Linked DNA regions of Homo sapiens: region 2 is linked to region 1. The links come from fine-mapping of genetic effects on gene expression. A gene starts in region 1. The other region holds a variant in brackets. All regions are shown on one strand. Distances are from middle to middle.

Region 1 (15,951 bases):
CTTAATCTTCTAAGGTCTTTGGAAATATGGGATGCCTAGAAACTATGGCCCTCCCTCCTGAGTGTTTTCTTCAACAGGCCAGTCAGCCCTCTGAGGTTGTTTTACATTCATCTAATTCCCTCCAGTCCCCAAACTGGTAATTCAAAGGAAAAAAGCAAATATGCTATCCAAGTGATTCATCCTCATATCATATGACTCTCCTTGTCCCCTCACCCCACAGCCTACTCAAGCTAGTCTGGGTCATAAGATATTTTTCTGTGGGTGTCACTTCCTGAATGGCAGGTCACAGCAGACAACATACACCCATCTGCTTTTACCAACTCAGTACTCATATTAGGAACTAGCTAGGTCCATGTCGCTAACAATAACTGGTCGATCTTGAAGCCAGCTCCTTTAAAAATGCCTTCCAAGGATTTGAGAGGACAAGAAAAATACAGAACTCCTCCTTCTCCCTCCAAAAAGAATCAATTTATTCTTAAAGACAAACTAACTTATTTACTGGCAAATGCAAAATGCATATATTCACATCATAAGTCTTCAGAATTACTTTCTTATGCAAAGCAGCTAGCTAGAGTCCTCAGCAGTCTTCTCTGTCTCTGCTCCCCTGGAACCCCAGCCTCTGAATAACAAAGCAGCAGTAGCAACAGGCTCACAACTCAGAGAATGACTGACGAGTCCACTGTAACCCTCCGGACCCTGGACAGGGAAACCAAAAGGCAACTTGAAGCATGTCCCAGAACGCAACAGTCAGTTCAACTGAGGCACATTATGGAGTTCAGTAAGCTGGTCCTCAATGAAAAGGAGGCCAAGACACTCCTACTACTACTGGGGGCTGAAAAATACCAGGGCTGAGGTCAACTGGTAAATACTTCTACTTAAAGACAGAAAAAGTTGGGCATGGTGGCTCATGCCTATAAGCCCAGCACTTTCAGAGGATGAGGCAGGATTGCCTGAGGCCTGGAGTTTGAGACCAGTTTGGGCAATACCACAAGACTCTGTCACTAATTTTTAAAAATTAGCCGGGAATCATGCCTGTAATCCCAGCACTTTGGGAGGCCAAGGAGGGTGGATCACCTGAGGTCAGGAGTTCGAGACCAGCCTGACCAACATGGAGAAACCCCATCTCTACTAAAAATACAAAATTAGCCAGGCATGGTGGCACATGCCTGTAGTCCCAGCTACTCGGGAGGCGAGGCAGGAGAATCGCTTGAACCTGGGAGGTGGAGGTCGCAGTGAGCCGAGATCATGCCATTGCACTCCAGCCTGGGCAATGAGCGAAATAGCATCTCAAAAAAAAAAAAAAAAAAAATTAGCTAAGTGTGGTGGTATGCACCTGTAGTCCCAGCTACTCGGCGGGGAGAATCCCTTGTGCCTAGGAGATCAAGGCTGCAGTGAGCTAGAAGCATGCCACTGCACTGTAGCCTGGGTGACAGAGCAAGACCCCATCTCTAAAAAAGAAAAATTAAACAACAACAACAAAAAAAAAGCAAGCAGAACTTGAAGGCCAAGATTGCAGTCAAGTGTCATTTAAAGACTGACCTCTCAAACATCTTGATTTCCTTCTACCATAAGGAGAATAAGAAGCATTTCAATGACTCCAAAAGCATGAGTAATTATGGTTATGCAATAGTACAGGGGTTTTATTAAAGAATACTGCCTGGACTAGATCAATGAGGGAATGTTAGAGTATGAAGAATGGAGGAACAAAAGGGCATTCAGACAGAAGGGGAGACAAGTGCCTTTCAGGACTAAGTGTAAGCCTCAGTTCAATTCAATTATGTTAGCATTTGCTCAGGACCTAGCCTGTGGAGAACGATGTGCAAGCATTCTGCAGGCATTTGGTGGCTTTCCTAGACAGAGAGGTAAAATACCCTCTGGCCTAATTTCCAATGTTCACTTCATAAAATCAACTATGCTACTGAATAATCAAGAATACTCTTCTCATTCATGGAGAACAAACTCTAAAACCACTCAAATTGGAAAGACACCCACCAGTATTTAGCTGGAAAAGAAAATGACTACTGCCTAATTTTTCCTCACCATCCACTCTCTTCTTTAATATTTTGTGTTTTTTTTCTCTTAATAGATTTTCAATTCCTTTATTATATCTAGGAGAGAGCTTCAGTTTGATGCCAATATTATAAAAACAACTTTTCTTAACACCCATTTACTAATCTCCCCTTTTAACAAAGGAGGGGTGAGGTACAGATAGCTTAAGCAGTAGCAGTCCATGAAGTTGGGAATAAAAACCAAATCACACAAGAAAGCAAGAGGCCATGCACCAGCTGGTGTCAGAACCCACAACCAATTACTGGAACCTGAGCCCAGCGCAGTGGCTCACACTTATAATCCCAGCACTTGGGAGGCCAAGGCAGGTGGATCATTTGAGGTCAGGAGTTCAAGACCAGCCTGGCCAACATGGTGAAACCCCATCTCTACAAAAAAAAAAAATAGAAAAAATTAGCCGGGCATGGTGGCATGCACCTGTAGTACCAGCTACTCAGGAGGCTGAGGCGGGAGAATCGCTTGAACCCAGGAGGTGGAAGTTGCAGTGAGCCAAGATCACACCACTGCACTCCAGCCTGGGCAACAGAGCTAGACCCCCCTCTCAAAACAAACAACAACAAAAAATTACTGGAACCTGGAACCCAGCGGGGTTCCTATATCTAATCAGCAATGACAAGGAGGAGGGTGTCATGCTATGCTAAAAGAGGTCCTTTCTCCAAGAACCTAAAATGTAAGACAGTTCAAGCATATCATTCACATCGCACAGTGAAATATACAGAAATTACCTTTTATAAAAGTCTTCTTTTAAAGTTTCATAAACATTAAGTGGATAGTTCTCAAACGTTTTGGTCTCAAAAAGTTTAAACTCTTAAAAATTAGGCTGGGTGTGGTGGCTCATGCCTGTAATCCCAGTACTTTGGGAGGCCAAAGCGGGTGGATCACCTGAGATCAGGAGTTTGAGACCACCCTGGCCAACATGCTGAAATCCTGTCTCTACTAAAAATACGAAAATTAGCCGGGCATGGTGGTGGGCGCACCTGTAATCCCAGCTACTTGGGAGGCTGAAGCAGGAGAATTGCTTGAACCCAGGAGGCAGAGGTTGCAGTGAGTCGAGATCATGCCTGATCTAGCCTGAGCGACAGAGTGAGGCTCCATCTCAAAAAAAAAAAAAAAAATTATTAAGGACTCCAAAAAGCATTTGTTAATGTGGGTAAAGGCTATATCTCATATCTTAGTATTCAATCTGTTTCAATATCACACATCATGTAGTCTCTGGAAATCTCCACTCTCCACTCCTAAGTAAATGAGAATGAAAAAGGCAAATAAAGTCTTAGAATTATGATGAAAATAATTTTGACCTGTGGACCCCAAAAAGGAACTCCCAGAGGTCAAGATCCCTGGGCCACACTCTAAGAACTGCTGTATTCTATGGTATAGGTTGGAGGAAAATAGTAGTCCTTGATTTAGCTATTTAGGTAGAGAAGCCTTATTTACAAGTTCATTCTTACAAAAGGAAGGGAAGGGCTTGTTGAAATATATAAAACCATCCAGGCACAGTGGCTCACACCTGTAATCCCAACACTGGGAGGCCAAGGCTGCAATGAGCCAAGGTTGTGCCACTGCACTCCAGCCTGGGCGACAGGGTGAGAAACTGTCTCAAAAATATATATATAATAAAATATAATAAAATTATTTTACTAAAACGTTAAGAGGCAGTCAAGTTTGTCATACATGTAGGTCTCGAGATTTTAAGCATCATCTACCAACTTTTTTTTTTTTTTTTTTTTGAGATAGAGTCTTGCTGTCTCGCCCAGGCTGGAGAGCAGTGGCACGATCTTGGCTCACTGCAAGCTCCGCCTCCCGGGTTCACGCCATTCTCCTACCTCAGCCTCCCGAGTAGCTGGGACTACAGGTGCCCGCCACCACGCCCGGCTAATTTTTTGTATTTCTAGTAGAGATGGGGTTTCACCATGTTAACCAGGATGGTCTCTATCTCCTGACCTTGTGATCCGCCCGCTTCAGCCTCCCAAAGTGCTGGGATTACAGGCGTGAACCACTGCGCCCCATCTACCAACTCTTATAGCCTTATTCGATACCATGTACCCCAAGAACCCTAATTAAGCAGTTAGTAGGAATGTTTTTAAAAATCTGATTGAGCTGCCCCAACTAAGTGCCAGGAACTACGTCAGGGCTTTCATGTGTGATATGTCATTTAATCCTCTTAACCTAGTGAGTCACATGCTGTCCTATGATTCTTGGCAATGTGAAAATCTAGTATTACTCCACGCAAAAGAGAAAAAGCTCAAAAAACCCTTTTGCAGTTGAGTGAGCATGAGACCTGAAGCACAAGGAGGTAAGTGAGGGGGGTATGTGTATACTCTCCCCATGACTTCTAGCATTTTCCATCTGTTCTTGGACCCCACTGAGACAGAAACCATCCAAAATTGAGAAATGGGACCAGGGCTGTTATCTTCAAGAATCTTTCAGACTGTCTAAGATCCAAAAGTGGCTGTCGCAGAAAGTGCTGGTTCTCCCAATCTCTGTTCCCCCTTGTTCCCTAGACACAAGACCCATGATTTTTACCTGGGCGAAAAAAGAAAAAAGACTATAGTTCCCAGCCACTACTACAGCTAAGTTTTAGACAATGGAATGTAAGTAGAAGAGTCTCCTACAACTTCTACGAAGTGCCTTAAAGGATGGGGGCATATTCACCCTCTCCCTTTCCTTCTTCCAAATGGCTGAAAAGCAGACAAGATGTTTGCAGCTTGAGCGGCCATCTTGGACCATGTAGTAGAAGCCATATCCTAAAGATGGCTGATCAGCTGGCAGGAAGAACCCTATGTCTCCAATAAAGTGAAATGTCATGCCAGCCCTGAGCATGCCTGAGCAGCTAGCCTATAGACTTCTTTTACATGAGGTGTAAATGAACCTTTTTTCAAGTCATCATTATTTTAAAATATCTGTCACATATAGTCAAATTCAATACTAACCAATATAGTAGCTGAGAAGAGAATTTAGAAATTCTTTTCTTTTGTTTTGTTTTTGAGACGGAGTCTCACTCTGTCGCCCAGGCTGGAGTGCAGTGGTACGATCTCGGCTCACTGCAACCTCCACCTCCCAGGCTCAAGCAATTCTCCTGCTTCAGCCTCCCGAGTAGCTGGGATTACAAGTGCCTGCCACAGTGCTCGGCTAATTTTTGTATTTTTAGTAGAGATGGGGTTTCACCATGTTGACCAGGCTGGTCTCGAACTCCTGACCTCCAGTGATGCGCCTGCCTCGGCCTCCCAAAGTGCTGAGAGTACAGGCGTGAGCCACCGCACCTGTCCAGAATATGGAAATTCTGATGACTGACTCTGAGGGAGCAAAGGATAGTGGTGAGAACATGAACTCCACAGCCAACCCGCCTTGGCCCAATCCTGCCTCTACCACTTACTAGGTGTGAGACCTTGGAAAAATTTGTTATACCATGGGCTTGTGTTGTCACCTGCGGGGATAATAACAGTACCTACCTCCAAGGGTGGTTATAAAGATTAAGTGAGTTATTATTTGTAAAGCACTTAAAGGAATATAGTAAATGCTATGTAAGTATTTGTTTAATAAAGTAAATACATTTGGAGGAGAGCCAAAGATGACAATTCCAACTACAGTAAGTCTGTGGGCCAGTCTAACCCACCGCAAGCATTTAGAAAGTGCCCTTTGTTCTAAATCACATTTTCTTCACTGGAAGCAGTATGAGTACGTCAAAAAGTTTTGTCAGGGCATCTGTGTTTGGACTTCCCCTATGAGAAAGGATAGTGGCCAGGAAATTTTAGAGACTGGAATCCCTAAATCACCAAGTAACATACCTATGGTCTGTCCTTCTCTGTGGCCTATGTACTGAGATGGTAGTACTTTACCTGCCAGGTAGAATTAAGAGATCGTATTACTTCCATCTGTCAAAGCACCAGCTCACTTCTCAGCTGACCTAACCCACTTCCAATGCAGCTCTAACAGTGTCATGAAAGAAAAACAAAAATATTCCTCCTTCTCCTGTACCTATCAAAGATAATCTTAGCCCCTTCTTACATTTGCCAACAAACTAAAAATACCCTCTGCCCACAAAAAAAGGACAGGCATGGTGGGTCACACCTGTAATCCCAGCACTTTGGGAGGCTGAGGCAAGAGGATGACTGCTTGAAGCCAGGAGTCTGAGACCAACCAGGGCAACATGGCGAGACTCTTGTCTCCATGAAAAATAATTTTTAGCCGGGTGTGGTGGTGCGTGCCTGTAGTCCCAGCTACTCGGAAGCTGAGTGGGAGGACCTTGAGCCCTGGATGTCAAGGCTGCAGTGAGCAGTGAGACTGCACCACTGCACTCCAGCCTGGGTGTCAGAGTGAGACCTTCTCTGAAAGAAAGAAAGACGAGAAAGAGAGAATGAATGAAAGAAAGAAAGAAAAAGAAAGAAAGAGAAAGAAAGAAAGGAAAGAAAGGAAGGAAGGAAGGAAGGAAGGAAGGAAGGAAGGAAGGAAGAAAGAAAGAAAGAAAGAAAAAGAAAGAAAGAAAGGAAGGAAGGAAGGAAGGAAGGAAGGAAGGAAGGAAGGAAGGAAGAAAGAGAAAGCAAGCAAGCCTCTGGCTGACATTTAAACCTCAGGGCACTCACATTTCTTTGCTTCTAGAAATGATGGTTCCCACTTGAGCTTGCAAGCTCTTTTATTTAAGAAACTTGGAGGCCGGGCGCGGTGGCACGCCTGTAATCCCAGCGCTTTGGGAGGCCGAGGTGGGCAGATCACAAGGTCAAGAGATCGAGACCATCCTGGCCAACATGGTCTCTACTAAAAATACAAAAATTAGCTGGGTGTGGTGGTGCACGCCTGTAGTCCCAGCCACTCAGGAGGCTGAGGCAGGATAATTGCTTGAACCTGGGAGGCGGAGGCTGCAGTGAGCTGAGATCGCGCCACTGCACTCCAGCCTGGCGACAGAGCAAGACTCTGTCTCAAAAAAAAAAGAAAAAAAAAAAGAAAAAGAAACTTCGAAAGACTTATTACTCGCAAAGCTTTCCCCAACTCAGTTTATGTAAACTGAGAAACTGAGTTCATGGCAGAATTGTTCTCTAATTCTTGATTAATTCAGGGACGACTCAAACTCTGAGTGAATAACTAGATCATTCAATGAGCCGAACCAAGAGCTACAAGTAACAGCCCGTCCTGGCCACTCAGGACTCCTATTAAAACAGCACCCTGGCCATCTAAAGAGTTCACACAGGAGAGATGTCAGGGAAAATCTGAGGAAACTTTGACACCCATAATTTAAATAACAATACATCTTTCCAATGACCCATTGCAGCACACCTGAAAATTTCCCTGAAACTTCCCTGAAAACAGGGAAGACTTGGTATTTCTTAAATTCTGCAGTTCTCAAAAGGATAAAGGTCACTTCTCAGATACCCTGGTCACTCCATGCCCCATCCTATAACCATCCCCCTTTATATACAGGCAGGGGACAAAATAAAGGTCGGCAAACGCTCTGCCTTAGTTGAAAAGCAGGCTGTTGATAGCCCTGGGAGAGAAATGAAAGAAAAAGTAGCTGATGGCCCCATGTTTCTAAAACTCCAAGTTCTATCTAAACTTTGGAGTCGTCAAAAAGTATTTGAACCCTTTCCCAGAAGTGAGCAATACCCAGGGCAGATGAAACTGGTGAGTCCGCCCATTCTTTCTTCAACGTCTGTTAATAAGAGCTGGGACGGTGGCAGGGGACATCCCCCACAACATAGAAGGCTGGAACTGAATTCTCAGATCCCCTGATAGGTCACCCATCCTCCTCCGTGAACAGCGACACACTGGTTCGGTCGGTCCAAAAAGAGAGAACAGGCCTAAAGCCCCAAATCTGCAAGTCGGCGGCCGAATAGCTGTCCCAGTAGTGTGAAGCTAAGTACCCTACTAGAAAGCAGTCTCTGTCCAGCGGCGGATTGCCCCACCACACCGCTGAGCCCCCGGCCCGTATCTGGTCAATTTCCTCTTTTCATTTTCCGCTCACTCCTCCCCCACCAAGTAGGTTCTGATTTATTTCTCCATTCCGCAGAGCGTCCCCAGCTCCAGTCCTCAGTGGCATCCCTAAATCCTGCCAGGGGCTGGTACTGTGAAGTTTCTCCCTTTTCCCTCTGGCTGTGCGAAGCCCCCAACTCCCCAGGAGCGCCGCCGGCCCTCAGCCCGCGGCGGCGGTCCCCACCCCCGCACTCACCCCCTGAGGGTCCTTGACGAAGTAGCTTCCGCTGGAGCCCTGGTAGATGCGCTCGGGAAAGATGCAGCGCTCGATGGCCAGCTCGGCCTGCCGCACCACCGCCTCGAACTCAGGATCCTCCGGGAACTCGTTCCGCTCGCGGTGGGCCTGAGCGGCGTGGGCTGCCGCCGCGGCCTGAGCGGCCAGAGCCTGGGCCTGCGCCGCCACGGTTTGGGTCTGGCCCTGGGCCGCCGCGCCCCGGGCCCGATCCAACAGTGGCTGCCGCTCGCGGTCGTGGCCCGGCGAGCCCGGCGGAGAGGGGCCCGAGCCGGCCGCCGCCGCCACTCGGACCGCGCCCCCGGGCACCTGCGGAAAGTGAGCGCCCGAGCCCGACGGGAAGGTGTAGTCCGGGGGTTGGGCCCGCTCGGGGGACACTAGTGGGCTCGTCTCGTCCATCCCTCAGACAGCCGGCTCCGGGACCCGGCGCGCTCCACACCACTGCGCTCGCGGCCGCGACCAATCCGTGACATCCCCCAGGCCCCGGCCGGCCAACCAGGTCGCGACGCCTCCTTGGCCCCGCCTCTAACCTGCCCTGTTTACTTGGCTACGAATAGGCACGGCCCCTCGCGCGCGAACAGTAGCCAATCAGAACCTGCTCCTACGCAATCGCTGCCTCCGCATTTTTCTCCCCGTCACCTTCTGTGAAGACTGCGCATGCTCCAGGACCCAACCTTGGGTCAGGCACGCCCCCTGCCCCTACTATACCAGCGCCACGCTTAGCTTCCAATTGGCTTACTGGACTTGGGCGCTTTCAAAACAGCAACTATCCTGTCAGTCACTCATTGAGTGCCTACTCTGAACCGGCTGTGAGATTGGAGGAATCTCATCTATGTATCCTCATTCATTCAGTCAGGCACTCATTCATTTATTGAGCACGTACTATGTTCTAAGTGCTAGGGAGACAGCAGTGAAGCAAAGAAACAAAGCTGCTGCTCTACCTCGATGAAACGTTTTTTTTGGGGCGGGGGGTTTGTTTTTTGGGTTTGTTTTTTTTTTTTTTTTGAGACAGAGTGATCAGTCTCCAAAAAAAAAACGACAGAGGTCAAGTGATCTGCCCACCTCGACCTCCCAAAGTGCTGGGATTACAGGTGTGAGCCACTGCGCTTGGCCTGGAAGTAGGTTTTTAAAGGAAAAGAGGCAGTTCCTAACTTGTTTACCAAGAATTTACATTAAAATAACAAGTTATAGATTGGCTATACATTGTACTTTGTATCCCAAATTCGTATCTCAGTTGACCTAACATACTTCCAATGTAGATGTAACAATGTCAGGTTACACTTCAAGTTCGCAGGAACTTGAAGGTAATGGGTGAAGTAGCCAGTCAGGATAAAATGTCTTAACAATTGCCTCCAGGTTTTCCTAGGAAGCCCTGAAGATTTCTTTTTAAAATATTATTATTATTTTTTTAGAGTTAGGTTATCTCTATGTTGCCTGGGCTGGTCTTGAACTCCTGGCCTCAGGCGATCCTCCTCCCTCAGTCTCCCAGAGTGCTGGGGGATTACAGGTGTGAACCACCCACAGTGCAGCCAAAAAATAAAAAATTTTTAAAAGAAAAAAACCCGCCAGGCACAGTGGCTCACGCCTGTAATCCCAGCACTTTGGGAGGCTGAGGCAGGCGGATCACCTGAGGTCGGGAGTTCAAGACCAGCCTGACCAACATGAAGAAACCCTGTCTCTACTAAAAATACAAAATTAGCCGGGCATGGTGGCACATGCCTATAATCTCAGCTACTCGGGAAGCTGAGGCAGGAGAATCGCTTGAACCCAGGAGGCAGAGGTTGCAGTGAGAAACTCTGTCAAGAAAGAAAGAAAAAGAGAGAAAGAGAAAGAAAGAAAGGGAGAGGGAGAGGGGCAGGAAGAAATAAAGAAAAGAAAGGGAAGGAAAGAAAGGAAAGAAAGAAAGAAAGAAACCATTGCCCCAGAGTGTGGGTGTGGAAGGCATGACTGAAGTCCCATACTCATGTCTTTGAGCCAATAGACTGTGCATACATCACACAGAGCTCAGACTGCTCTAAGCTATCTTTCCTTCTCAACCTTATAGGAATTCAAGGCCAGCCTGGGCAACATAGCAAGACTCCATCTATTTTTTAAAAATTAATTTTTTTAAGGAGTTCCTAGGAAAACCCAGGGGCAATTGTTAAGACATTTTATTCCTGACTCGCTGCCTCACCCATTATCTTCAAGTTCCTGTGAAGATACAAACTTGTGATACAAAGAATAATACATAGCCAATTAATATCTTACACTGTGCCTGGCCCAGCTGCTCAATGCTTATTTGTTAATTGAAGAAAAATATGGTCCCATGAGCCTAAGAAGTTCTTACCACGAGGTAAGAGTCCATTGCTTTTACTCACACTGTTAAATCTCAGTGTCTAGACACAGTAGGTGCTCAGTACATTATTATTCATGAGAAAGGGAAGGAAGATAGAGTCCCTGCCCTCAAGCTGAAGGCATGTGGCTTTCTGAGGCAGTAGGAGAAAAAAAAGCAAAATGAGCTCAAAACTCCGTAACAGTTCACCAATTAACTGAGGCAGGCTGCAGGCTCAGCAAAGGCTTTATTTTTTTTCTAATTTTTTTTTTCAACCAGAATGCTCAAGGATCAAGCAAAGGCTTTAAGTGGGTCATGTGCTATGAGCTGAGTCTTAAAGAAAGAGTAATTAGATTGCTGGAAAAAAAGGAGACAGGAAAAAAATGTTACACCAAGCAGGAGTTACCTGAGTAAAAGAGGAAGGCTAGGGCATATAGGGAACAGAGAGCAACCTTCTTGATTCGAGGGGAAGCAGAGTTAAACTGGGTTACCAAGGGCCTGGAAAGTAGAACAGAACGAGACCAGCCTGGGCAACATGGTGAAACCCCGTCTCTACTAAAAATACAAAAATTAGCCGGGCTTGGTGGCACATGCCTGTAATCCCAGCTACTTGGGAGGCTGAGGCAGGAGAATTGCTTGAACCTGGGAGAAGGAGGTTGCAGTGAGCAGAGATTGTGCCACTGCACTCCAGCCTGGAACAACAAGAGCGAAACTCCATCTGAAAAAATAATAATAATAATAAATTCATGGAATACTGTTTCAGTTAAAATTTATACAAACAAGCCAGGTACGATGGCTCACGCCTATAATCCTAGCACTCTGGGAGGCTGAGGCGGGTGGATCACCTGAGGTCAGGAGTTCAAGACCAGCCTGGCCAACATGGCGAAACCCTGTCTCTACTAAAAATACAAAAAAAAAAAAAAAATTAGCTGGGCTTGGTGGCACACGCCTATGATCCCAGCTATTTGGGAGGCTGAGGTGTGAGAATCGCTTGAACCTGGGAGGTGGAGGTTGCAGTGAGCTGAGATCGTACCCCTGCACTCCAGCCTAGGCGACAGAACAAGAATCCGTCTCAAAAAAAAATGTATGCAAACACTACCTTCAAAAGTGTAGAATGTACATCCAGGCTTGGTGGCTCACACCTGTAATCCTAGGGGAGACCAAGGCGGGTGGATCACAAGGTCAGGAGTTTGAGACCAGCCTGTCCAACATGGTGAAACCTCGTCTCTACTACAAAAAATTAGCCAGGCATGGTGGCAGGCGCCTGTAATCCCAGGTACTACGGAGGCTGGGGCAGGCGAGTCGCTTGAACCTGGGAGGTGGAGGTTGCAGTGAGCTGAGATCGTGCCATTGCACTCCAGCCTAGGCAACAGGGCCAGACTCCGTTTCAAAAAAAAAGTGTAAAATGTAATGGTTGGAAGCATGGGCTTGGAAATCAGAGACATTTGAGTTTGAATCCAGTCTCCATGATGATCAGTTGTTTTAGACAAGTTATATAACCTCTCTAAGCCTCAGTTCCTTAATCTATAAAATGGGAATAATCATCCCCATGATTACTGAATCAAGAATCAATATAATGTTATGTAAAGCACTTAGCATATGAAGCATGACTCTCTAATAGGAAAAATAAAAATAAAGCACTTAGCATAGTGTTTTGTACATAAAGAGCACTCAACATATGGTAGCTTTTTGAAAAAAAATCACTGCTGATGTTACTGTTGATGTTGTTTTTGTTTTTATGCTTAAAGTCACCAGCAGACTAGAGGTATGGGCTTTCACGAATCATGGCCAGTCACATAGTCACCAATATTTCATAATCATTCTTTCTTGAATCAAATTATTGCCACTGCTAACTAGAAATACCAAATTGAAAGCACTATTGTTTAATTATATGTATGGGAATGTCTTAAACATTTTTGGCCAGACAAACCATTCTAAACAAAAGTCGTACAGAAGGTTAAATTGCCCCTTTCAGTTATAATACATGCACTTCCTTTTCCTATCTAGACCTCAATAATCAACTGATGCCTGGCTCTTGTGGCCCAGGGTCTGTAGCCACATAGATAATCTTTTGGTATCATTCATCTCATTTAGCCCATAAGCTTCAAATTATGGTAAAGGAAAGGTCCCAGATTTAGAGTTCTCCCTGGAATTCTGAGTTTTTTCTCCACAGAAACCCCTCAGAGTCTTTTATTTTATCTAAAAAAATTTTTTGGCCAGGCACAGTGGCTCACGCCTGTAATCCCAGCACTTTGGGAGGCCGAAGCGGGTGGATCACGAGGTCAGGAGTTCGAGACCAGCCTGGTCAAGATGGTGAAACCCTGTCTCTACTAAAAATACAAAAATTAGCCGGCTCTGTCACTCAGGCTGGAGTGCAGTTGTGCAATCTCAGCTCACCGCAACCTCCGCCTCCCGGGTTCAAGCGATTCTCCTGCCTCAGCCTCCTGAGTAGCTGGGACTACAGGCGCGGGCCACCACATCCGGCTAATTTTTGTATTTTTCAGTAGAGACGGGGTTTCACCATGTTGGCCAGGATGGTCTCGATCTGTTGACCTCATGATCCGCCCACCTCGGCCTCCCAAAGTGCTGGGATTACAGGCATGAGCCACCACACCCGGCCTAGACATTGTTTTAAATGCATTACATGGATTAACTCATGGAACCAGCTTTATAGTATCCTGTGATGTTGGAAACCCAGACCCAGGGAGGTAAAGGTAATGTGCCCATGGTCATTCAGCTGGTAAATGGCAGAGCCGGATCCAAATCCAGGCAGACTGTTTCCATGCTCTTAACACTATGTTGATTCTTATTAAATATCCCTATGAAATATGTCTCATATTTACCCCCTTTCTTTCATCTCCACTGATGCTACATGAAACTTCCAGGATGTGTTAGTTGCATTATTACAATAACTTCTGAGTTTGTTACTTTGCTTCCAATCTCTCACTGGTCATCTCTGAGTGTCACTGTCAGATTAATTTTCATAAAATACTGCTTGTAGTGTGTCATTCCCCTGGCCAAGAAACTACATTTTATTTATTTATTTATTTATTTATTTATTTATTTATTTATTTATTTATGTTTTGAGACAGGGTCTCTGTTAACCAGGCTCAAGCAGTTCTCTTGCCTTAACCTCCCGAGTGCTGGCACCACAGGCACTTGTCACCACACTCAGCTAATTATAAAGGCCATAAGAGTAACAATCATGGCTTTTCAAGCCTGACAGAACCTAGCATCATGCTGTACTCACATTGTTTAAGAAATAAACATATGGATACACAGATTGATGTGAGTGGTATTTGGGAAGATTTGCTCCAATCTTGGCACTATATTTTATTTATTTATTTATTTATCTAGTGAACCAGAAATAAAATTATAAGCCCCCCAATCAAATGAATGGCCTCCTCTTCTGGGCCAAGGGCATTCCTAAATTAACCTGAAAAACTATTTGAGGCCATGATGAGAAGTGGGAGTCAGACATGCCTCATTATTTTCTCCTGCTTTTGGAATTCAGGACCAGCATTTAACATTAAAGCAGAGATCTTAAGGTTGACACAGCAGACTCTTTGTAGCAATGATACCAACATTGACAGATAGCAGGCCCCATCTGTCATGATAGCAGGCAAAGGTGTCTTTTATGGTGAAAATCTACATTCTGTAGAAAATCCCCTTCCCTTTCCAGGTCTTTTTCCTGATCCAGGGGAGAACTAACTAAGAGTCTGATACCTTTCTAAATCTGATAATAAACACTGGCCAGCCTTGGTGGCTCACACGTGTAATCCTAGCACTTTGGGAGGCAGAGATGGGAGGATCACTTGAGCCCAGGAGTTCAATACCAGCCTGGGCAACATGACAAAACACCATCTCTACAAAAAATACAAAAATAAGCCAGGCATAGTGGAATGAACCAGTAGTCTCAGCTACTTAGGAGGCTGAGGTGGGAGGATAACTTGAGCCTGGGAGGTCAAGGCTGCAGTAAGCCGTGATCCAGCTACTGCACTCCAGACTGGGTGACAGAGGGAGACCCTGTCTCAAAACAAAAAAAAAAATAAAGAAACATTTACAATCTATGCTCTCTGGAGCCTGCTACCTGTAGCCTTCTCTGCATAATAAAAACCTTGATTTCCACAATTCCTTGTGTGTGTGTGTGTGTGTGTGTGTGTGTGTGTGTGCGTGCATATCTTAGTAACAATTCCTTAACTTAACCCAGACATTCCCTTCTGTGGGTTCCAGGTCTTTAAACTCTTTCAACCAATTGTCAATCAGGACATCTTTGAATCCACCTACATCCTGGAACTTGCCACCCCCACCCCCACTTTCGGGACCAAGCCAATGTATATTTTACATGTATTGATTGATGTCTTACGTCTCCCTAAAATGTATAAAATCAAGTGGTGTCCCGACTATTTTGGACACACATTCTTAGGACCTTCTAAGGCTGTGTCACGGGCATGTCCTTAACATTGGCAAAATAAACTCCTAAATTGATTGAGACCTGTCTCAGATACTTTTTGGTTTGCAATTTATTTATTTGAGACAGGGTCTTGCTAGGTCGCCCAGGCTGGGGTACAGTGGCAGAATCATGGCTTATTGCAGCCTCAACCTCCTGGGCTCAAGGGATCCTCCCACCTCAGCCTCCTGAGTAGCTGTGACTACAGGCACCCACCACTAGGCTGGGTAATTTTTTTCTTCTGTAGATACGGAGTCTCCCTGCGTTGCCCAGGCTGATCTAGAACTCTTGGGCTCAAGCCTCCCGCACTCCTGAGCTCAAGCCGCGGCCTCCCGAAGTGCTGGGATTACAGATGTGAGCCACTGCGCCTGGCCAGGTACTATATTTTAAACAAAAAGGATCTAGATAATGACAAGGACAGCACAAATTCCTATAATGAATGCAAAAGTGTCTTGATATCACAATGTCTAGCACAGAGTTATTGGAGGCTATCCTGCCTAGCGCGTTACAATTTACAAAGCTGCCTCTCTGAAGCTGGATTTAGGATCTGCCTTAAACTCCGCGGCGGGGCCCTTGACAGCAGTGGGGACTGGAGCAAGATCAGAGCCGCTCGCGTTGATGGTCACTGTTGCTTCGGGCGCAGGTTTGGTTTTCTTTGGGGTTGCCATTTCAACTAGACGGCCTCTGGGTAGGCCAGATCTGGATCCTCTGTCTTTATCTGCGTTGCAGAGGTGGGACCACCCCTCTTTCACATAGTCAGCCCGGGTTCGCAAACACTCGGCCCCGCACAAAGATGGCGTGGAGCCGGGCTGGGCCAATGCGGAGTGGCGTTGCTCCCGGTTGCCTAGGTAACAGCCAATGGGCAGCGGGAATTGTACCCAGTGCGGTCGCCCAGGATGGCGGCGTCAAGTGGGGCAATCGCTGGTGGAG
Region 2 (15,951 bases), 22 kb before region 1:
CCAACTTCTGGCCTCAAATGACCCTCCCAATTTGGCCTCCCAAAGTGTTGGGATAACAGGCATGAGCCACTGAGTCCAGTCCTCACCATCTTTTGTCAGTATTTTACAGGTATTTCAGTTATGTGTCCATGAGGACACAGTTTCTCCTCTTTGTCAAAATTAGTATCACCACCATTTATCTTCTCTGGTAGGAGAGTACAAAAGCTGAAGGTGTCCTGTCTTCTCTCTCTCTCTCTTTTTTTTTTTCTGAGACGGAGTTTCGCTCTTCTTGCCCAGGCTGGAGTGCAACGGCACAATCTCGGCTCACAGCAACCTTCACCTCCTGGGTTCAAGCGATTCTCCTGCCTCAGCCTCCCGAGTAGCTGGGATTACAGGCATGCACCACCACACCCAGCTAATTTTGTATTTTTAGTAGAGATGGGGTTTCTCCATGCTGGTCAGTCTGGTCTCGAACTCCCAACCTCAGGTGATCCACCCGCCTCGGCCTCCCAAAGTGCTCGGATTACAGGCATGAGCCACCACGCCTGGCCCTATCTTCTTTAAAACACTAGATGTTGAAGATTTCATGGCCAGGTCACAGAACATGGAGGGGTAAGCTAGGCTGCACCCTGAAATCACACAGACACACAGCCCTCAAGCCACAAATATCCTCTTACACAACTGCTGCCTATAAAGGAGCAGAGATACAACTGCAACAGGGGTCATTTGTTACCCTATTGGTAACAAATTTCTTTTTTACTTAATTGTTTTGGTACTTGCCAGCATCCTACACTGTTCCAAATAGTCTGAAGCACAATATTGGGGTGAAGAACTAAAAGGAGATTGCGGGAGTATCTGGGGTAAACATGTCAAATTGTCTACTACTTATTTTCAAAAGATTTGGCAAAAAAGAATATCTAGGGAGAGAAATTAAATAGATATTATTCAGATACATCACTGGATAATACGTAGACATATGAGATAAATGTGGTTAAATATAACAACTGAAGAATCTAGAAGATCCCATTCTTTCAACTTTACTGAGGTTTGAAAATTTCCAAATTAAAAAGCTGAAGATAAGCCTGGAACCAGGACTGAAAAGAAAGGAGAATAAAGAATTTAAAAAGAAAAATTATTTTTTAAATTTGAAGAAAAATTATAGCAGTCACATAATACTAAAGAATAAATACTATCTTTGAAAATGTTGGGCTGGATGTGGTGGCACATGCCTATAATTTCAGCACCTTGGGAGGCCAAGGCAGGAGGATCGCTTGAGGCCAGGAGTTTGAGACCAGCCTGGGCAACATAGCGAGACCCCACCTCTTAAAAAAAATTACCCAGAAATGGTGGTGCATGCCTGTGGTCCCAGCTACTCAGGAGGCTGAGGGGGGAGGACTTCTTGAACCTAGGAGTTCAAAGCTGCAGTGGTCTACAATTGGGCCACTGCACTCCAGCCTAGGTGACAGAGCATGACCCTGTCTTTAAAAAAAAGAAAAGAAAAAGAAAATGTTACAGAGGCTTTCTCTCAGACCCTAGATTCTTTAACTCCCGGTGAGAAGCCTTTAAGTTGAGTAACAACTTCTATCACCTGACTGTGTCCCTGTGGGGCCTCTTCACTCTTTCCCTACATCTCAGGGCCCTTGTACTACAGCCCATCCTGCAATAATGGCTCAGCTATGTAGACAGGGTTATGACCTCTTTTCTCTGTGCTTTGTCAGATTTCTGTAGTGCAGAAATTTTGTAGTGCACACATTTTGCTTTGATGTGTGAATGGTAGACAAGTAAGCACATGAGTGATATACTGGCCATGTACATGTTGGAAGGAGCTGGATGGTCACCCTAAGGTAGTAGGCACTTTAGGTTACAAGATACCAAAAGCTCCTCTGAAGACATTAGGAGCACAAGATGGAGATAAATAAAACTGCACTACCCCAACCTCCCTACCATCCTGAATAATGGCACTATCTGAGTAATGGGAGAAGGGTTGGCAAGGGACTGAGCTGGGATGGAATTAGATAAGACATTGCAATACGGACAGAGGCACAGCCTATATCAACTGGAGAAGCCAGTTTACTCCTTTATGCTGAGTTCCATAACATCTGAGTCTATCACATGGCTTTTAATGCTTCCAAAAATTCTGCCAGCCTAATTGGGCCCTTACATTACTTGGGAAATGTAGGAATACCATGTTACTGGTATTCAGACAGCTACAATAATTGTAGTTCTTAAAACCTCTGTCCAGGCCGGGCTCAGTGGCTCACTCCTGTAATCCCAGCACTTTGGGAGGCCGAGGCAGGCAGATCACCTGAGATCAGGAGTTTGAGACCACCCTGGCCAACATGGTGAAACCCCATCTCTACTAAAAATACAAAAATTAGCCAGGTGTGGTGCCATGCACCTGTAATCCCAGCTACTTGGGAGGCTGAGGCAGGAGAATCACTTGAACCTGGGAGGTGAAGGTTGCAGTGAGCCAAGATCGCACCACTGCACTCCAGCCTGGGTGACAGAGTGAGACTCTGTCTCAAAAGAAAAAAAAAACCTCTGTCCAACCCCCTTCCAGGGAAAAATGGGCTCAGCAAACCCAGGAGGTGCTGTCATCAGAGGTCTTTAGATAAATGGCAGGAAGAAGTAAATGCAGAATTAAGGCTGAGAAGATCCTCTTGCCCTTTAAAGATGGGAGAAGCTGAATTTTCTGTATACAAAAATCATAATCCTAACAGCTATTAATACTACAAATTGAGTATTTTAGTATACCAGGTACTACTCTAACTGTTTCAAATCATTTATCTCATAATAATTCTGTAAGGTGGGTACCATTATTATTATCTTGAGACAGGTTCTCACTCTGTCCCCTAGACTGGAGTGCAGTGGTGCCATCTCAGCTCACTGCATCCTAGACCTCCCAGGCCCAAGCAATCCTTCCACCTCAGCCTCCTGAGTAGCTGGGATTACAGGCGTGCGCCACCACACATGGCTAATTTTTGTGTTTTTTGTAGAGATGGGGTTTCACCATGTTGCCCAGGCTGGTCTCCAACTCCTTAGCTCAAGTGATCTGCCCACCTAAGCCTCTCAAAGTGCTGGGATTACAAGTGTGAGCCACCATGCCTGGTCTCAGCTACTATTATTGATCCCACATTAAACATGAGGAAACTAAGGGAAGGAGAGATTAAGTAACTTGCCCAAAATCTCACAGGTAGTAAATGGCAGAGCCAGGCTTCAAAAACCCAGGCACTGTGACCACAGTTTGCACCCTTAACCACTAGGTCATCCCAACTCTCTTTAAGAAGACTTCAAAGTGATAGGCATAATACCAGTACCCTACAGAGTTTTCAAACCATTTTTCAAGCATTTCTTTACTATGCTTTGGAAGATCAACAATCCCCTTGGTTTCCTTAGCTCCCTTTGAAGGTGAAGTGGAAGGAGAAGGAATAATGTAAGTTGCACCTATAACAACAAAATTATAACCATAATCAATATGTGAGTGCTTCATGTGCCCAGTACTCTTTTTACTAAACGCTTGATAAGCATTATCTCATGAAATTCTCCAGCCAACTGTGCAACGTATTATTACTATCCTGTTTTATGAACAAGAAAACAGAGGCTTTTGCCCCAGGCCACAGAGCTTCCAAGTAGTGAAGCAGTCTGGCTCCAGGGCCCAGATCTTAACCACCAAAACATACAGCCTGCCTTGAGCAACTCTAGGACAGAGAGCATTAGTTTAATTACCAATGAATTACCTAGCAACTAGCATAGAGATGAGTGCACATTAAGTGCTTCAACAAGCACTGGATACCAGGGAAGAGGTGGGAGAATTGGGAGGGCCACTTTTCCTCTCCTAGGTGTTAAGGTACAGCCAAAAATAATGTACACAACGGACTTAAAAAAGCTGTAAAACACGGCCGGGCGCAGGGCCTCACGCCTGTAATCCCAGCACTCTGGGAGGCAGAGGCAGGTGCATCACTTGAGGTCAGGAGTTCGAGACCAGCCTGGTCAACATGGTAAAACCCTGTCTCTACTAAAAATGCAAAAATTAGCCGGGCGTTGTGACATGCGCCTGTAATCCTAGCTACTTGGGAGGCTGAGGCACAAGAATTGCTTGAACCTGGGAGGTGGAGGTTGCAGTGAGCAGAGATCATGCCACTGCACTTTAGCCTGGGTGACAGAGTGAGACTCGGTCTCAAAAAAAAAGGGGGGGGTATAAAACACAAACTTCAAACATTTGCTCAACCTGAGCACACAACACTCCCAGAGACGCCAAAGATACTGGGAGGATGTCCCAGGCTTACCTGGCCCCGCATGACAGCAATCTGCTTATGGAACTGGCCCCTGTCGAAACCAGGATCTTTCTGCAAAAGAAGACCAGAAGGAGATGGAACCTGTGTGAATGCCTCACAGGAACCCATTTTCTCCCCCAGTTAGAAACTTTCTAAGAAGGAAAACCTGCATAAGGCTTCTGCAGCTTTGTGAAGTCAACTACTCCCACAAGAACTCCCTGCTTTACAGATGAGGAAACAGAAAACAAGTCAATATCTTCCTCTGCATCTCAAACTCTAGGCTCCAGTGCTCCATATTAAAATGAAAGCCCTGCAGATACATTGCAGCCACATGATGGACAGGAGAGACACATCAGTGTGATTTCTCACCCCTGCCCATTTCTCTCAAACCCATCCAAACCAGGTCCTGCTGTCCACATGTGGAAATCTTGCTATTCGTTGGCTAACTCAAGTCAGAAAGGTGTTAGCCATTTCCTCTTGGCTTTTGTCAGGACCAATTAAAAAAACCATTAAAAATTCCTTCTCCCATATGATAATAGGGCTGAGGTTCCCAGGGCTAACCTTGAAGAGTTCATATAGGTCCTCTTCCAAGTCCTTGACGAAGTTAGGGTCCGATATCTTTGGAAGGATCAGATCTTTGATCTCCTGAGAAAATGGGACTTTCGCCTGGGGCAACCAGGCCCAGTAAAAAGGATCTGAAAAGAGGAAAAGTCAAAGGCAAAGCTGGTGTTGGAAAAGTCCCTGCTCATCTGTGTCCTCCACCAGTCAAGGCACTTTCTAAAGGAGAACCCCTCTTCCCTGACATACAACAGAAACAAAAACTTACAAGTGCTCTTAACTGTAAAGGTTACACAGCTAGTCAGTAGAGGAACCAGGGTTCAAACCCAGGGCTGCCTAATGTCAGAGCTCATTCTCAGACATTACATGACCTTCCAAGATGCAAGGTCTAGAAGCAACTACTTGCCACTGAGACGCTGAGATGGTCCTTCTGAAAAGGAAGACTAATGCTGCAAAAGGGGCTACTGACTCCCTACATTTATTTCTCCTCCTTTCCAGAAGCTTCTCAGTTACAACAGGGTAGGAGATGGAACAAGGAAGACAGAACACTGATAGGAAGCTTATATTTAGAGGCACAATTAGAATAAATTATGGAAAGACAGTCCTCAGATAACAGGAAAAAAAAAGATATTTCAGGAAATATACACTAAAACAATAAAATAACAAATTAAAAAATTAAAAAAGGGCCGGGCGCAGTGGCTCATGCCTGTAATCCCAGCACTTTGGGAGGCCAAGGCGGGTGGATCACAAGGTCAGGAGATTGAGATCATCTTGGCTAACACACTGAAACCCTGTCTCTACTAAAAATACAAAAATTAGCTGGGCATGGTGGCGGGTGCCTGTAGTCCCAGCTACTCGGGAGGCTGAGGCAGGAGAATGGTGTGAACCCAGGAGGAGGAGGTTGCAGTGAGCCGAGATCGCGCCACTGCACTCCAGCCTGGGCGACAGGGCAAGACTCCGTCTCAAAAAAAAAATAAATAAATAAAAAATAAATAGCCCTCAGCCAGGCGCAGTGGCTCACACCTGTAATCCCAGCATTTTGGGAGGCTGAGGCAGGCAGATCACCTGAAGTCAGGAGTTCAAGAACAGCCTGGCCAACATGGTGAAACCCCGTCTCTACTAAAAATACAAAATTAGCCGGGCGTGGTGGCGCATGCCTGTAATCCCAGCTACTTGGGAGGTTGAGGCAGGAGAATCGCTTGAACCCAGGAGGTGGAGGTTGCAGTGGGCCCAGATCGCACCATTGCACTCTAGCCTGGGCAACAAGAGCGAAACTCCATTTCCAAAAAAAAAAAGTCCTCAGAAAGAACGAGAAGAATGCAAAGAGACAATGAGAAAACTCATCTTTATGCTTCTAATTTCTAATCACCTTTATGCTTGTAATGGGAATCATAGAAGACAAAAATTAGAAAAACAGCTTACATTATGAAATAGTTGCCATATGCCAGCCATTGTGTTAAAGTGCCTGAACTCCATTATTTCATTAATTTTTAGAATAATCCTATGATAGAGACATTATCATCTCCACTGCACAGTGAGAAAATATACTGAGCAAGGGAAGAGCCAGACCACCATTGTCTGGAGACTTACATGCCCTCCAGGAGTCAGGATGCTTCAGTGGGAAGGCCAGCCCATTGTCTATGGCAGCCACCTTGATAACAGGCTCCTTCACCACCACCCAGTCTGTGTCCTGAAGAGCAAGGAAAGACTAATGACTGAGGAAACCCATCTCCCTCAGGCCCTTCCAATTAGTAGCAAAGCAACTCATCCCAACTCCCTCAAGAGAAGAATTCTTATTGAACTTATCTTGAGCTACTCTCTGAACTGGCTTCCATGTTGTTATCTGAACTTAGCACATTTTGGTGCCTCTGACCTGGCTCTTGTTCAAAGTTCAAGAGTCCTGTTCTTATCTTAGAAAAGGTACACTTCCCCAAGAGTTGCTACAGTCCTTGGTAAGAAGGAAATGACAATAATAAAGATAACTATAAGCCATTCCTCCTAGGGAAAGAAAATGAGAATCCTGAAAGCAGAACAGAAGAAATAAAATCCATATCAGTTGGCCAAGGTCCTTTTGTGTGGACCTTGACTCAGATGTTACTTCACTGGTGACAACTACATTTTCCAGTGAGAAAACAGAGCCTCGGAAGATAACAGCTGGCTGCTCTTGCACAAGGGAGTCTGTTCTCCTGCTTCAGTGGTGCATGAAAAGGAAAAGGACAAGAGATGAATGTAAAAAGAGTGGGCATGTCACCTGTGACAGCCCATGTCAGAGACAATCACTGACTATGTGGCTCCATGCTTCAGGTTCATGGGTGCCATCACAGGAACAAGAACTGTGGTTCCAGGATGCCTGAATCTGAATCCCCTGAGATACCTTATTAAATGTGCAGAATCCTGAGTTTTACTCCAGACCTGATGAATCAGTTTCTAAGGGAAAGGCCTGAAGAATCTGTGTACTATTTTAAATAACTCTTCAGAAGATTCAGGCACAAAATTTGAGAGCCACTATTAGAGAAAGTAAAAAAGTTATAAGGAATGAAAACCCCACCCTGGGCAACATAGCAAGACCTCATCTCTACAAAACATTAAACAACTTTTGCGCCTGTAGTCCCAGCTACTCAGGAGGCTGAGGTGAGAGGACTGCTTTGAGCCCAGGAGTCCAAGGCTGCTGTGAGCTAGGATAGCACCACTGTACTCCAGCCTGCGCAACAGAGCAAGACCCTGTCTCTTTTTTTTTTTTTTTTTTTTAATTTTTGAGACAGAGTCTTGCTCTGTCGTCTGGGCTGGAATGCAATGGTGTGATCTTGGCTCACTGCAACCTCAGCCTCCCAGGTTCAAGCCATTCTCGAGTCTCAGCCTCCCGAGTAGCTAGGAATACAAGCTCCCGCCATCATGCCCGGCTAATTTTTGCATTTTAATAGAGACGGGGTTTCACCATGTCGGCCAGGCTGGAACTCCTGACCTCAGGTGATCCTCCCACCTCGGCCTCCCAAAGTGCTGGGATTACAGGCGTGAGTCACCATGCCCGGCCAACCCTGTTTCTTAAAAAAAAAAAAAAGAAAGAAAAGAAAAAAGAAATAAAACCAATCTCACTCTCCCCTAGGCAGCCTTCTGCTAATTTTGTAAAACATGTAGACTGAACAGTGATAGAGAAGTATGGTGGAGGATGAAAGGAATGAGAAAGGAAAGAAAGTTGCAGGAGCAGCTTTTTCTAAACTTATGTTCTGTGGACTTGCGGTCTGTTGTGAGAAAAGTGGTTCATGGTTTAAAAGGGGTAGAAATCAAATTTAAATAGGTTTGTTTAACGTAGTACTTCTCAGACCTTTACTATGCTACTGTGCAATAAGAAGCTCAAAGAACAGAGTACATAATATGTTCCAAATTTACTTGACCCTTTCTTCATGCTATTCCTATTAACATGTGTCAGTAGGATGTCCTTGAAACACATATTGAGAAAAACTTTACCAAATATTAACCTATTAATTTTAAACATATGCGCCCCCCGATTCTTCTGAACTTGTATGAACTACATCTCTGACCATTTTATGTGTTTCTATATTATGCAAATACTCTTCATTCTCTTTAAGATTTATCTCAGTCTCTTACCCGAGAGCTAGAACTATCCATTGGACAGTCATATTTAATCAGCCAGTTGTCATTGCCTCGATCTGTGAACAGAAATA[T/C]AAAGTTAGCAGAAAAAGGGGGGATGATTTTCCATTTTTGTAATGGTGGACTAGGTATTCTGGACACTCGGACTAACGCTTCTACTGAGAATGACTACAAATGCTGGATAAAATATTTTTAGATCTTTTTTAAGGTACTGGAGATTTTAATAAGACCACAAAGGATTTAAGAGTGAAGATATGGGAGAGAAAGGAAATCCATGGGAGGACGTGGAGCCCAGCACTGTGGCTTCTTTTCCCCTAGAGCACCTGCCAATTTGGAAAGAGCTGGCTAAGAGCTTGAGAGGTAGAACAATTATAAGAGCCTTGTGGAGCTAGAGAGACAAAAACTATAATCCAGTGACTGATCAGGGGTAAGGGACCCTCGTATATCATCTATGCTTTGGGTTACGACCTGAAGCACTACACCTTGGAAATACACTAAGCTCCCCTCAACACCTGAAATTAAAGTGATACTGGATTGCTATTGCCCTAGATGCTTGCCAAAAGAAATCTTCCTCCAGACAGGATTTACAATGACATCTTAGGCCTTTATACAGCTCTACGATTTCTGATAGGCAGTATTTGACAATGAAAAACAACCAGGTACACAAAGAAACAAGATGACAGGAATAAAAGAGAAACAACTGAAAATTAAAACAGATCTGTAGGGGCTCCAAACAATAAAAATATACAGACTTTAAAATGTTCACAACAAAATCCTTAATATGTTTAAAAAGATAAAAGTCAAGATTAAGAATATCAGCAGAGGCTGTACCTGAAATCCCAGCATTTTGGGAGGCTGAGGAGGCAGAGAATCACTTGAGGCCAGGAGTTCAAGACCAGCCTGGGCAAAATAGCGAGACCCCATGTCTAAACAAATTGTAAATAAGATTAGCCAGGTGTGGTGGTACGTGCCTATAGTCCCAACTACTTGGGAGGCTGAGGCAGGACAGCTTGAGCCAAGTGTTGGAGGCTGCTGCAATGAGCTATGATCATACCACTGTACTCTAGCATGGGCAACAGAGTGAGACCCTGCCTCAAAAAAAAAAAAAAAAAAATCAAACCTGAATTTGATCAAGCCTTTAAACTCAAGCAGTAAATTTACAGGAAACACAGAGAATTGGGGATGCCAAATCCACAATGTGGAACTTCTATAGGGCAAATATCCAGTTTCTTCAACAAATAAAAGGCAAGGGAAAAAAAAAGATGTGAAACTTTCCCTAAATTGAAGACATTTAAGAAACATATTAACCTGGCCAGTCACAGTGGCTCATGCCTGTAATCTCAGCATTTTGGGAGGCTGAGGTGGGAGGACTGCTTGAGCCCAGGAGTTTAAGACCAGCCTGGGCAACATAGTGAGATCCCATCTCCAAAAAAAAAACAGAAAGGAAAGATATTAACCAAATGTAATATGTGGACCTTTATATCATAATTTCAACAAGCCAATTATAAAAATCTTTTTTTATGAAACAACTGGGGTAATCCAAACACTGATGGGACATTAAATACTGATTATACTGAAAAAAAAAAAAAAGTCTTTATCTCTTCAAGAACATATGGAGGTATCTATGGATGCTATAAAATGATGTCTCAGATTTGCTTTAAAATAATCCAGCAGTGGCCGGGCGCGGTGGCTCACTCCTGTAATCCCAGCACTTTGGGAGGCCGAGGTGGGCGGATCACGAGGTCAGGAGATCGAGACCATCCTGGCTAACACGGTGAAACCCCGTCTCTACTAAAAATACAAAAAATTAGCCGGGTGTGGTGGCGGGCGCCTGTAGTCCCAGCTACTCGGGAGGCTGAGGCAGGAGAATGGTGTGAACCCGGGAGGCGGAGCTTGCAGTGAACCGAGATTGGGCCACTGCACTCCAGCCTGGGCAACAGAGTGAGACTCCGTCTCCAAAAAATATAAAATAAAAATAAATTTTAAAAAATCCAGCAGTTCCAGTCAAAGCCTTAGTTGAAAAAAAAAAAAATCCAGCAGGGATGGGGGTAGCAGGAAGTGAGACCTTACATAATAACTGTTGAAGGTGGTAACAAGTACATGGGGTTTATTATACCAGTCTCTCTACTTTTGTGTATTTTGAAATTTTCCTACTAACCAGCTAAAAAACTATTTTAAGTAAACTATGGGTCAGAGAAGAAATGAACAATGGAAATTAGAAAATACAGTCTCCATCTATAAACTGAGAGGATAAAAAAAATTTCAGTATATTTTATAATGATTATGGTAAAAAAAAAAAACACTTGTAAGATACAACTAAACTATGCTTAAGATGAAATTAAAGTCTGAAGTGCATATATTAGAAAAGAAGAGCCCGGGCTCGATGGCTCACACCTGTAATCCCAGCACTTTGGGAGGCCAAGGCAGGCAGATCACGAGGTCAGGAGTTCAAGACCAGCCTGACCAATATGGTGAAACCCTGTCTCTACTAAAAATACAAAAATTAGCCGGGTGTGGTGGCATGCACCTGTAGTCCCAGCTACTCGGGAGGCTGAGGCAGGAGAATCACTTGAACCTGGGAAGTGGAGGTTGCAGTGAGCCAAGATCATGCCACTGCAATCCAGCCTGGGCGACAGAGTGAGACTCCGTCTCAAAAAAAAAAAAAGGCCGGGCGCGGTGGCTCACGCCTGTAATCCCAGCACTTTGGGAGGCCAAGGCGGGCAGATCACGAGGTCAGGAGATCGAGACCATCCTGGCTAACACGGTGAAACCCCATCTCTACTAAAAATACAAAAAATTAGCCGGGCGTGGTAGCAGGCGCCTGTAGTCCCAGCTACTCGGGAGGCTGAGGCAGGAGAATGGCGTGAACCCGGGAGGCGGAGGTTGCAGTGAGCCGAGATCGCGCCACTGCACTCCAGCCTGGGTGACAGAGCGAGACTCCGTCTCAAAAAAAAAAAAAAAAAGAAAAGAAAGAAAAAGAAAAGAAAAGGAAGGGAAAGGAGAAAAGGTAAAAATCAATACTCTAAGAGAGAGGATTCTGGGAAGATGGTGGAGTAGGAAACAACAGAAATCTGTCTCCCCACGTGGACAACAATTGTAGTGGCAAAAATCTGTCTGATGTAATTATTTTGGAGCTCTGGAGTCTATGGAGGGCCTGCAACTTGCAGGGGAAAGCCTGGACAGTAAATTGTGGTTAATTTCATTCAATTTTGGCTCTTAGCCCCACAAGCAGCTACCCATCCCCCACCCTTCAGCCACATGGCAGCCAGATGTGCACAAGTTCCAGGAGCAGCTTGCAAATAGCTTGAGGGTGCCAAGGTGGGCAAAAAGGACCCTAACATCATAATGGTGAAAGATTGCAAGGTTTTCCTCTAAAATCAAGAACAGTGAAAAGATGCCTGCTTTTACTTCTATTCAACATAGTACTGGAAGTCTTAGAGCACTGAAGCAAGAAAAAAGAAATAAAAAGCACCCAAATTGGAAAAAAAAAAAGAGGGAAAATTATGTCTGTTCATAGATATGATTGTGTAGGTGCATAACCCTAAAATTTCCACACAAAAAAATAACTACTAGAACTAATAATTCAGGAAAGTAGCAGCATACAAAGTCAATCCACAAAAAAATCAGTTGCAAGCCAGGCGCAGTTGTTCACACCTGTAATCCCAGCACTTTGAGAGGCTGAGGTAGGAGGACTGCTTGAGCCCAGGAATTCGAGACCAGTCTGGGCAACGCAGTGAGACCTCATCTCTACAAAGAATTTAAAAACTAGCCAGGCGTGGTCCTCACACCTGTAGTCCCAGCTACTCGGGTGGCAGAGGTAGGAAGATCACTTGAGCCCAGGAGTCCGAGGCTGTAGTGAGCTATGATTGTGCTACTGCACTTCAGCCTGGACAATAGAGCATAACTCTGTCTCTTTAAAAAATAAAACTAAAGGCAAGAGATTGAGAGAAAATATTTGCAAATTATATATCTGATACGGGATTAATAGCCAGATATACAGAGAACTTTAAACAAATGTATAGAGAACTCAACAATAATGACCAAAAAAAATTCAAAAATAGGCAAAGGACTTAAATAGACAGCTCCAAAGAAGATATATGATTGGCCAATCAGCACATAAGAAGATGCTTACCATCACTAATCATTAAGGAAATGCAAATCAAAACTATAAGATAACATCTTACACCCATTAGGATGGTTACTATCAAAACAACAGAAAACATTCAGCAGAATGCAGATTAAATATGAAAAGGAAAAAACAGAAAACAGTAAGTGCTGGTGAGAAATTGGAAGGAACCCTCGTGTGCTGTTGGTGGGAATGTAAAATGGCACAGCTGCTGTGGAAAACAGTATGGTGGTTCCTCAAAAAATTAAAAATAGAATTACCATATATGATCCAATAATTCCACTTCTGGATATATACTCAAAAAAACTGAAAGCAGGGTCTTGAAGAGATATTTGTACACCCATGTTCATAGTAGCATTGTTCGTAATAGCTAAAATGCAGAAGCAACCCAAGTGTTCACTGAAAGATAAATGGATAGACAAAATGTGGTATATACATAAAATGGATCAGTATTTATCCTTAAAAAGGAAGGAAATTCTGATATATACTACATCATAGATGTACCTTGAGAACGTTATGCTAAGTGAATAAGCGAATCACCAAAAGACAAATACTGTACTATTCCACTTACATGAGGTACTTAGAGTAGTCAAAATCATAGAAACAGAAAACAGAATGATTGTTGCCAGGGACGTAGGGAGGGGGAATGAAGAGTTACTGTTTAATGAGTATAGAGCTTCAGTTTTACAAGATGAAAAGAGTTCTGGAGGCCAGGCATGGTGGCTCACACCTGTAATCCCAGCACTTTGGGACACTGAGATGGGTGGATCACCTGAGGTCAGTTCAAGACCAGCCTGGCCAACATGGTGAAACCCCATCTCTATAAAAACACAAAAATTAGCCATGCATGATGGCGGGTGTCTGTAATCCCAGCTACTCAGAAGGCTGAGGTGAGAAAATCACTTGAACCCAGGAGGCAGGGGTTGCAGTGAGCTGAGATCGCACCATTGCACTCCAGCCTAGGTGACAGAGCAAGACTCGGTCTCAACAACAACAAAAAGAGCTCTGGAGATGGATGGTGGTGACAGTTGCACAACAATATGAATGTATTTCATACTACTTTAAAATGGTTAAGATAATAAATTTTATGTTACATGCATTTTACTATGATTAAAATATCGGACAAAATATAGCTCCAATAAGGTGACTTTAGAGACTTTTTTTTTTTTTTGGAAACAGAGTCTTGCTCTGTCACCCAGGTTAGAGTGCAGTGGTGCAATTCTGACTCACTGCAACCTCCGCCTCCCAGGTTCAAGCGATTCTCCCACCTCAGCCTCCTGAATAGCTGGGACTACAGGTGCCCGCCACCACACCCGGCTAATTTTTGTATTTTTAGTAGAGACAGGGTTTCACCATGTTGTCCAGGCTGGTCTGGAACTCCCGGCCTCAAATGATCTGTCCACCTTGGCCTCCCAAAGTGCTGGGAGTACACGCATGAGCCACCACATCCAGCCTGAATTTAAAGACTTTTGTCCTCAATACATGTACATTTTACCAGGTTAGTTGAATTTAAATTGCACTGAAAAAAAATTTTTTTTAAATATCAATGATCTAAACATCTACCTCAAGAAGTCAGAGGAAGACAAAACTGTCCTGTTACAGGTCTTGAGGCTACAAGAATGACTAGGGATCAAGGATAAGAGTACTCTTCACAGTGCTTTGGAAGAGTTAAGTGTCTTCTGTCTGGAACCAGGAAAGAGTGTAAGATAAAATGCAAATACTAACTCCAGGCCTCACCACTTCTGAAAACTACACATGATGTGTCTGGACAAGGTACTCTGACTCCCAAGCCCTGCAAGCCTCCAGGCCTCCCCATGCCTCAACACAGTCTGGCACAGGGCATGGGACCACCTGCAGCTGCTCACCAGTGTTGCGGATGATGTAATCCAGCACCACCAACCGCTCAAACTGGAGCAGTAGTTGCCGGTTAGTGTTCTCAGGAAGAGGTTCTGCTTCAAAACGCCGCAGCCAATAGTCTGCATCTTTGTAGCCTTCAACAAAGAGCTGGAATGAACCAACCTGGAACCAAGAGGAAGGAACAAAGGTTTTTCCCTACTGCCCAAATCCAAAGACCTTTGGAGTATATGCCAGATACCCATTAAGGCCCTATGGAGTTTGTATCAGAGAAGGAAAACTTTTCAAGATCTTTACTTCCTCATTTCTTGCAAGTACAGGAGAAAAGAGATGTAACAGTGATCATCCATCCAAATTAAAGAACCTATCCAAATGAACCAGAGGAGTAAAGTGAAAAGTTAGGTCTCAACTTTTCAAACCTTAGCCACTTGACAGAAATAAGGAAGACAGGATCCTCAGGGCAGGTTATTCACGTGCCCATATTTGAGTTGTAGGCACCTTGCTTCACCACTTGGATGACTATGTCACTATAAATCATGACCCTTGATAAGCCAGAGGTGCGTCTATACCTTTGGTGGTAGCCCGATGCGGTTAAACCGCTGTCCAACTTTTGGCACTTTCTCTAGTGCAAGCCGCTTGCCCCTGGACTTCACTCGGTCAATGGCACTATAGTTGAAGGTCTCACTGGCCAGGTATACTACCTACAGTGAAAGAGAAGAGATACTAAGGTTAGAGTCAAGTTTAAGGAACCAGAAGACTATGGCAGAGAATAAATAGCTTGATGTTCACAAATCCTATTCCTCTTCCAGGGCACAGAAAGAATACATTTCTCAGCCTTCCCAGCAACTAGGAGAGGGAAGATAACTAGTTTGGGCCAATGAAATAATGACAAAATTATGTATGTACAACACTTCCACTGCTGGCAACTAAAATCTCCCACAATCCTTAATTCACATTCTCCAGTCTGTGCAGCTAGGAAAGAAGGGCTGGGAAATAGCAGAGCCACACCATGGAAGAACCTCGGATACCTTGTAACTACATGAGTGATGTGGTATCTAGGAGAGCTGCCTATCTGGCATGAGTCTGAGATGTAATCAAGAAATACACTCCTGGCCAGGCGTGGTGGCTCACACCTGTAAACCCAGCACTCTGAGAGGCCGAGGTGGGCAGATCACTTGAGGTCAGGAGTTCGAGACCAGCCTGGCCAACATGGTTAAACCCCGTCTCTACTAAAAATACAAAAATTAGCCAGGCATGGTGGTGCACGTCTGTAATCCTAGATACTTCGGAGGCTGAGGTGGGAGGATGGCTTGAACCTTGGAGGCAGAGGTTGCAGTGAGCCAAGATCGCACCACTGCACATTCTATCCTGGGTGACAGAGGGAGACTCTGTCCCAAAAAAAATATGATAAAAAAGAAATACAATCCAATTGTATTAAACCACTTAGATTTAAGGGTTGTTACAGCAGCTAGTATGAAGTACAAGGATTAACACTGTCATCTCCTGGGTTAGATTAGGCCAAATGCCCATCTTCTTTCCAGAGACAAACAA

The links. PIP is the estimated chance that this variant, and not a neighbour inherited with it, causes the effect.
Region 2: its variant is fine-mapped to the expression of PI4K2A in lung (TOPMed, PIP above 0.99).

The regions. Positions count from the first base shown.
Region 1 is chr10:97,633,451-97,649,401 of GRCh38, reverse strand. PI4K2A (phosphatidylinositol 4-kinase type 2 alpha) reads right to left here and starts at 8,731. Exons shown (of 9, transcript NM_018425.4): 1 at 8,225-8,731. The coding sequence starts at 8,659. MORN4 (MORN repeat containing 4) reads left to right here and starts at 15,902. Exons shown (of 5, transcript NM_178832.4): 1 at 15,902-15,951. RefSeq lists enhancers at 373-432, 483-532, 15,549-15,638 and silencers at 8,412-8,641, 9,806-9,989.
Region 2 is chr10:97,655,435-97,671,385 of GRCh38, reverse strand. It overlaps PI4K2A (phosphatidylinositol 4-kinase type 2 alpha), which reads right to left. Exons shown (of 9, transcript NM_018425.4): 3 at 14,970-15,101; 4 at 14,412-14,565; 5 at 8,418-8,479; 6 at 6,402-6,501; 7 at 4,815-4,948; 8 at 4,266-4,325. Among named protein-coding and RNA genes, the nearest start is that of PI4K2A, 23 kb to the right of the region's middle. The variant T/C (reference allele first, on the strand shown) is at 8,495.